Homo sapiens: one gene and its partner. The protein of the gene in region 2 interacts with the protein of the main gene of each other region in a pairwise test. Each region holds a gene or a part of one and is shown on either strand. Other genes may lie near its edges.

What was found. The genes of interacting proteins can lie anywhere in the genome.
Region 1: the proteins of YIPF1 (region 2) and ZDHHC7 interact in binary tests that used the Homo sapiens proteins (3 or more experiments, as listed by UniProt).

Annotation. Positions count from the first base shown.
Region 1 is NC_000016.10:85,008,736-85,012,968, reverse strand, and holds the start of ZDHHC7 (palmitoyltransferase ZDHHC7), read left to right. Parts: upstream 1-1,433; 5' UTR 1,434-1,683; exon of another isoform or gene 1,684-1,863; intron 1,864-4,233.
Region 2 is NC_000001.11:53,879,798-53,883,297, forward strand, and holds part of YIPF1 (protein YIPF1), read right to left. Parts: intron 3,480-3,500; coding exon 3,316-3,479; intron 1-3,315.

The DNA of each region.
Region 1 (4,233 bases), on a different chromosome or scaffold from region 2:
TTTTCTGTCGAAGAGGCATATTTTGCGGTGATATATTCTGGTTTTTTCTTTTTCTTTTTTCATTGAGATGGAGTCTCGCTGTCACCCAGGTTGGAGTGCAATGGCGCGATCTCGGCCCACTGCAACCTCTGCCTCCCGGTTCTCAAGCGGTTTCTCCTGCCTCAGCCTCCCGAGTAGCTGAGATTACAGGCGCCCAAAACTGCACCCGGCTAATTTTTGTATTTTTAGTAGAGATGGGGTTTCGCCACGTTGACCAGGATAGTTTCGAACTCCTGACCTCAGGTGATCTGCCTGCCTCGGCCTCCTACAAGTGCTGGGATTACAGATGTGAGCCACCACACCTGGCCTTATTCTGGTTTTCTTTAGGTGTCTTCATTGAACAAGTAGGTATTGTCTGGCATACCCTTCTGGGTTATCTCGTCTTATGGGGTCTTACTTTTGTCTTTAAGCTATCTAGAGCTCTAGTGGAGCATTGTATATATACCATCATTAATGAGTTAAATGGTATCTTTGACATATGTTCATTTTATATTTGTGTGAGAGTCATAATTTTATTTTAAAAAAAAGATATGCTTTTTTTTTTTTTTTGAGACTGTTCACTCTGTCGCCCAGGCTGGAGTGCAGTGGCTTGATCTCAGCTCACTGCAACCTTCGCCTCCTGGGTTCATGATTCTCCTGCCTCAGCCTCTCGAGTAGCTGCTGGGATTACAGGCGTGCACCACTACATCCGGCTAATTTATGTGTTTTTAATAGAAACGGAATTTCACCATTGTTGTTCAGGCTGGTCTCGAACTCCTGACCTCAAGTGATCAGCCTGCCTTGGCTTCCCAAAGTGCTGGAGTTACAGGCGTGAGCCACCGCGCCCGGCCTTAAAATACATGTTCCTACTTTCAAACACTTAGGGCTTCCTATATGGAAGGGACAGTGGCGGTGCTCTAGTGTCCAAGTCCCTCAAGGAGGAGGCCGGGGGCTCCGCGGACCTCAGGAGTCAGGCCTCCAATCCCCAGTTCAGGGCGCTTTCCTCTTTTCCCAAGTGCTTTCTGGCTCAGCCATTTCCACTCCCGCTCCCTTACTTTCCCATTTCCTTCGGTCACATCCCCGCATATAGTACAGGCCACTGGAGCTGCCTCTGAGACACCGCCGCGGGCGCGGGTACACACTCCGCTAAGGGCATTCCCAACCCGGTTCCGCAGCCTAACGGCGTGGCTTGGACCCTGCTGCAGCCCGTAGCCCCTATCCTTTCTCCTCCGGACTTCAGTTTGGCGGCATCTCTGTCTTAGCGAGAGGGGCTGTGACTAAAAGCTGCCTTTTCTCAATGAACTGCCAGTTTGTAAGAGCCTCCGGGTCCCCTCAAACCGCCTCGAGCGCCCCTCTCCGCGAGAGCTGCGCGGCCGGAACTGCGCCGGCGTGACGTCACTGACCTCGTCGGGTTCACTTCCGGCGCTCGCACCGCCCCGCTCTCCAGCCAAGGCTCCGGGCTGAGGCATTTGCTTGGCTGCAGCCTCCTTCCGACCTGCCCGGCGGGACCCAGGGGACCAAGCCGAGCCGAGCCGCGGGGCCCGCTCCAGCCCGGCCATGAGCGCGGCCGCATGATGCGTCCCTGCCTCGGCCGCTGCAGTCGCCGCCGCCGCCGCCGCAGGCCGGGAGGAGCCGCAGCGCCGGGCGACCCCGCCCGGGCCTCGGGTGAGTGCGGCGGGCTGGGCCGGGCGGGCTGCTCACTCCCGGGTCTCCCGGCCACTTCTGGCCCCCGGCGTGCCCTGTCCTTCCGTCGGTTCCGCCGCTCTGTCTCCACCCCGCCGCACACCTGCGACCTTCTGGAGTTCCTAGGGGCACCTCCGTGCCCGCACCTGACTTCCCTTCCAGGTGCCCCCTTGTCATTCCTTAGTTGCTCTCTCGGGATAGGGCCCGGATTGCAGCCCCAGCTTTTTGCCTGACCTTGGGCGTGACACTCAGCTCTCCGAGCCCTGGTTTTCTGTGTGGCTAATGACGGGGTGGTGGTTACAGAGCAGCTATAAACCCTGTGTAAGCTGTAAAGAGTTTTTTAATAGGCAGGTATTACAATGAGCAGTCTCGCACTTCGCGTTGTGGCTTCTCTTCCTCTTAAGCTGTAAACTTTTCTCTTTTATTCTCTGCCCATCTTCCTAGTTATCTTCCCTCCTGCTCCACGTCAGTCATCTTTGGGTGTTAGTTGCCTGAAAGGGCATCTGGGACAGTAAAGCTTTCAGGGCAGTAAGGCTCACCTCTCCTGGTGTGGTTCCTTCTACAACTTTGTCACACTCAGTTAGATAGACACACTTTATTAGCTTATGAAGAACCAGTTTATTGTGGCCGTTAAATTGGAGTGTAAGAGACAGTGTTGATGCGGCTACCTGCCTTGTAGCTTCTTTTACTGTCTGGGCTGTATACAGTGCTGGGCAAATCGCTGCTACAGTGTTGCATTTTCAGTCTGCTTAGTGTATGCACTTAAGCGCACGTATTTATCTATTTTACTGTTACTATCCCAAGGGGTTTAGAGATTTAGGTCAATGTGTATTAATATTTCTTTCTGAACTCTTCATCTCACAGATGAAGAATCTCTTTTTTGTTATGTTTTACAGTGTTTACATACCTGAAATCACCTTTTAGTCACTTTGTGGCCTGGTACGCACGCGGTGGCTCGTGGCTCATGCCTGTAATCCCAGCGCTTTGGGAGGCTGAGGCAGGAGGATCACTTGAGCCCAGGAGTTGGAGAGCAGCCTGGGCAACATAGTGAGATCCCCTTCTCTACAAAAAAATTAAAAAATTAGCCGGATATGGTGGTACACGCCTGAGGTCTCAGCTGCTTGGGAGGCTGAGGTGGGGGGATCACTTGAGTTTGAGATCATGCCACAGCACTGCAGCCTGGGCAACAGAGTGAGATCCCCATCTCAAAAAAAAAAAAAAAGTCACTTTGTTAAATTCGCTTGTTAAAAGTCAGAACTTGGCCAGGCACAGTGGCTCATGCCTGTGATCCCAGCACTTTGGGAGGCCGAGGCGGGCGGATCACGAAGTCGGGAGATCGAGACCATCCTGGCTAACACGGTGAAACCCCATGTCTACTAAAAATACCAAAAATTAGCTGGGCATGGTGGTGGGCGCCTGTAGTCCCAGCTACTCGGGAGGCTAAGGCAAGAGAATCACGTGAACCCGGGAGGCGGAGCTTGCAGTGAGCCAAGATCGCGCCACTGCACTCCAGTCTGGGCGACAGAGCAAGACTCCGTCTCAAAAAAAAAAAAAAAAAGAAAAAAAGTCAGAACTTGGTTAAAGTGAAAGGCTCTTGGGATATTTGAAATATGGAATGGAACTGAAATATTAACTAAATTGCAATTCTTGAACATTCTGGAAAATAGGTTAGGGGCCCACATTGGCTTCTGATTTGAGAGTTGAAGGAGAAGAAGACTATTTGAAAAGGTAATTCCCAAAGGATTCGCTAAGTAACAATGGGAACTCTTCTGCTACCATTGGCTCAGAGCCTGCCTCAGTTGACAGATTAATGAATTGAAACTTTACAGCCCTGCTAATCAATGAACTGTAAAAACAAATCCTCTTCAAGAACAGAAGAGTATTAGCATGAATAGAATGGCCCTCTCAGTGAGAAAGAAAGCACTGAAATGAACTTTATATAAGAACAATCTTGATTCAGTCAAAAGTATGAACGTACTTTTACATTCTTACTGAAACTTACCTGCTGGCTTGGATGCTTTGTTGATATAAATAATACAATCTTTGTTAAATTAACAAAGAAAATGGGTGTAGAAATAAGTTCATGTAGAAAGTTAATGTTTGGGATGAACATTGAATAGTTTTCGTGATTGGACAACTATACAAGATAATTTTACTAAAGCAGCTTTTTGGGGTATGTTTCTGTAATATTTTAACTTTAGAAGTACTTTTTTTTTTTTTTTGAGACGGAGTTTCGCTCTTGTTGCCCAGGCTGGAGTGCAGTGGCTCGATCTTGGCTCCCTGCAGCCTCTACCTCCTGGGTTAAAGCGATTCTCCTGCCTCAGCCTCCCGAGTAGCTGGGATTACAGGCCTGAGCCACCGTGGCTGGCTAATTTTGTATTTTTAGTAGAGACAGGATTTCTCCATGTTGGTCAGGCTGGTCTCCAACTCCTGACCTCTGGTGATCCGCCTGCCTCAGCCTCCCAGAATGGTGGGATTACAGGCGTGAGCCACTGTGCCTGACCCTTTTTTTTTTTCTTCAAACCCTAGAGC
Region 2 (3,500 bases):
GAATGAATTCAGCACCTTCAACTGAAATACCCAGGTTCTTGCATTGGGACTGACTAGGCAAGTAGCTCGACCCACGGAGAATGAAGAAAAGCAGGGTGGGGCGATGGCTCACCCAGGAGCAGCACGGAGACAAAGGAACACCCATCCCCAACCAAGGAAAGCATTCCCCTTGAAAACCAGCACAAGACATGGATGCCCTCTCTTATCACTCCTATTCAATAGTATTAGAAGTTCTGGCCAGGGCAATCAGGGAAGAGAAACAAATAAAGGGTATTCAAATAGGAAGAGGGTATTCAAATAGGAAGAGAGTAAGTCAAATCACCTTTGTTTGCAAGATGACATGTTTCTATATCTAAAAAACCCCATCATCTCAGCCCAAAAGCTTCTTAAGCTGGTAAGCAACTTCAGCAAAGTCTCAGGATACAAAATCAATGTGCAAAAATTGTTAGTATTCCTATACACCGACAACAGGCAAGCAGAGGGCCAAATTATGAATGAACTCTCGTTCTTTTGTATGAATGAACTGCTACAAAAAGAATAAAATACCTAGGAACAAGGGAAGTAAAGGACCTCTTCAAAGAAAACTATAAACTACTGCTCAAAGAAATAAGAGAGGACACAAACAAATGGAAAAACATTCCATGCTCATAGTTAGGAAGAATCAGTATTGTGCAAATGGCATACTGCCCAAAGTAATTTATAGATTCAATGCCACTCCCAGTAAACTACCATTGACATTCTTCACGGAATTAGAAAAAAACTATTTTAAAATTCATATGGAATCAAAAGAGAGCCCAAATAGTCAAGACAATCCTAAGCAAAAAGAACAAAGCTGGAGGCATCATGCTACCTGACTTCAAACTAAACTACAAGTCTACAGTAACCAAAACAGCATGGTACTGGTACAAGAACAGACACATAGACCAATGAAACAGAACAGAGAACTCAGAAATAAGAATGCACGTCTACAACCATCTGATCTTCGAAAAACCTGACAAAAACAAGCAATGGGGAAAGGATTCCCTATTCAATAAATAGTGCTGGGAGAACTGGCTAGCCATATGCAGAAAACTGAAACTGGACCCCTTCCTTATACCATAAGCAAAAATTAACTCAAGGTGGATTAAAGACTTAAATGTAAAACACAAAACTAAAAAAACCCTAGAAGAGAATCTAGGGAATACCAGCTGGGCGCGGTGGCTCATGCCTGTAATCCCAGCACTTTGGGAGGCCAAGATGGGTGGATCATGAGGTAAGGAGTTCGAGACCAGCCTGGCCAATATGGTGAAACCCCGTCTCTACTAAAAATACAAAAATTAGTTGGGCATGGTGGCACGTGCCTGTAGTCCCAGCTGCTTGGGAGGCTGAGGCAGGAGAATCGCTTGAACCCAGGAGGCGGAGGTTGCAATGAGCCTCCAGCCTAGGCGACAAAGCAAGACTCCATCTCAAAAAAAAAAAAAAAAAGAAAAAGAAAGAAAATCTAGGGAATACCAATCAGGACATAGGCATGGGCAAAGATTTCATGATGAAAACACCAAAAGCAATTGCAACAAAAGCAAAAATTGACAAATGGGATCTAATTAAACTAAAGAGCTTCTGCACAGCAAAAGAAACTATCTTCAGAGTGAACAGACAACCTACAGAATGAGAGAAAATTTTTGCAATCTATCCATCTAACAAAGGTCTAATATCCAGAGTCTACAAAGTACTTAAGCAAATTTACAAGGAAAAAACAACTCCATTAAAAAGTGGGCAAGGGACATGAACAGACACTTCTCAAAAGACATACATGTGGCCAAAAAACATATGAAAGAAAGCTCAATATCTTGATTTGAGAAATGCAAATCAAAACCACAATGAGACACCATATCATGCCAGTCAGAATGGTGATTATTAAAAAGTCAAGAAACAACAGATGCTAGTGAAGTTGCGGAGAAAAAGGAATGCTTTTACACTGTTGGTGGGAGTGTAAATTAGTTCAACCATTGTGGAAGACAGTGTGGCGATTCCTCAAAGACCTAGAGGCAGAAATACTATTTGACCCAGCAATCCCATTACTGGGTATATACCCAGAGAAATATAAATCATTCTATTATAAAGATACATGCACATTTATGTTCACTGCAGCACTATTCACAATAGCAAAGATACGGAATCAACCTAAATGCCCATCAATGATAGACTGGATAAAGAAAATATGGTATATATACAACCATGGAATACTACGCAGCCAGAAAAAGGAATGAGATCATGTCCTTTGCAGGGACATGGATGGAGTTGGAAGCCATTATCCTTAGCAAACTAACACAGGAACAGAAAACCAAACACCACATCTTCTCACTTATAAGTGGGAGCTGAATGGTGAGAACACATGGACACATGGGAGGGGGAGCATCAGGAAGAAGAGCTAATGGATGCTGGGCTTAATACCTAGGTGATGGGGTGATCTGTGCAGCAAACCACTGTGGCACATGTTTACCTATGTAACAAACCTGTACCTCCTGCACATGACCCCTGAAGTTAAAATAAAAGTCGAAGAAAAAACATTAAAGAAAAACATTTTCACAATTAAAGTCGACAGTGGCAGCAACTGCCTTACATGGTGGTAAACAGCCCATTCCTGGAGGTACTCAAGCAAGTGTTTTCAATCTTTCCTTTTTTTTTTTTTCTTTCTTCTGGAGACAGGGTCTCACTCTGTTGCCGAGGCTGGAGTGTAGTGGTGCAATCTCAGCTCACTGCAACCTCTACTCCCCAAGCTCAAGCAATCCTCCCACCTTAGTTTCCCGAGTAGCTGGGGCTACAGGTGTCCACCACCATACTCGGCTAATATTTTGTACTTTTTGTAGAGGTGGAGTTTCACCATGTTGCCCAGGCTGGTCTCGAACTCCTGGGCTCAAGTGATCTGCCCGCCTCAGCCTCCCAAAATGCTGGGATTATATGCGTGAGCCACCACGCCTGGCTCCAAGTGTTATCTTTCCTACATAGCAAGGACAGCATCAATATCTCAGGAGAGAGGCTAAAACAGAGGGCCATGAAGGTTCTTTCCTACTCTAATATTAGAAAATATTGAGCATGGGAGTCCCACATTCCATAAGCTAGGATCTCTGCTCACTACCCCAGTGTTCCCCTCCACAAGTGTACTTACGGAAAGTAATGGTCTGTTTGCCTGTTTCCCCCACCAAGGAAGAGGCCATGTGTCATTTACCTCTGAGCTGTCATTGCCTGACACTGTACCTGGCACACAGTAGACAGTGAATAAGCACATAAACAAGCTTTAAAAATTGTTTAAAAAATATCTCAAAGACAAGTTCAAACCTCAGTTTTGTCAGAGTCATCATTTCCCAGTAACTCATCATCTTCTTCTCTTCCTGAGCCTCTTGGGGATCCTGGCTGATGTTTTGGGGTTTCACCAGGATCCTCAATGTTTACTGTGGTGGCATCTGGGTTTGCTGTCAGAGAAGTGGCTGCATTGCCAAATTCTGAAATCAATTAGAGCACAC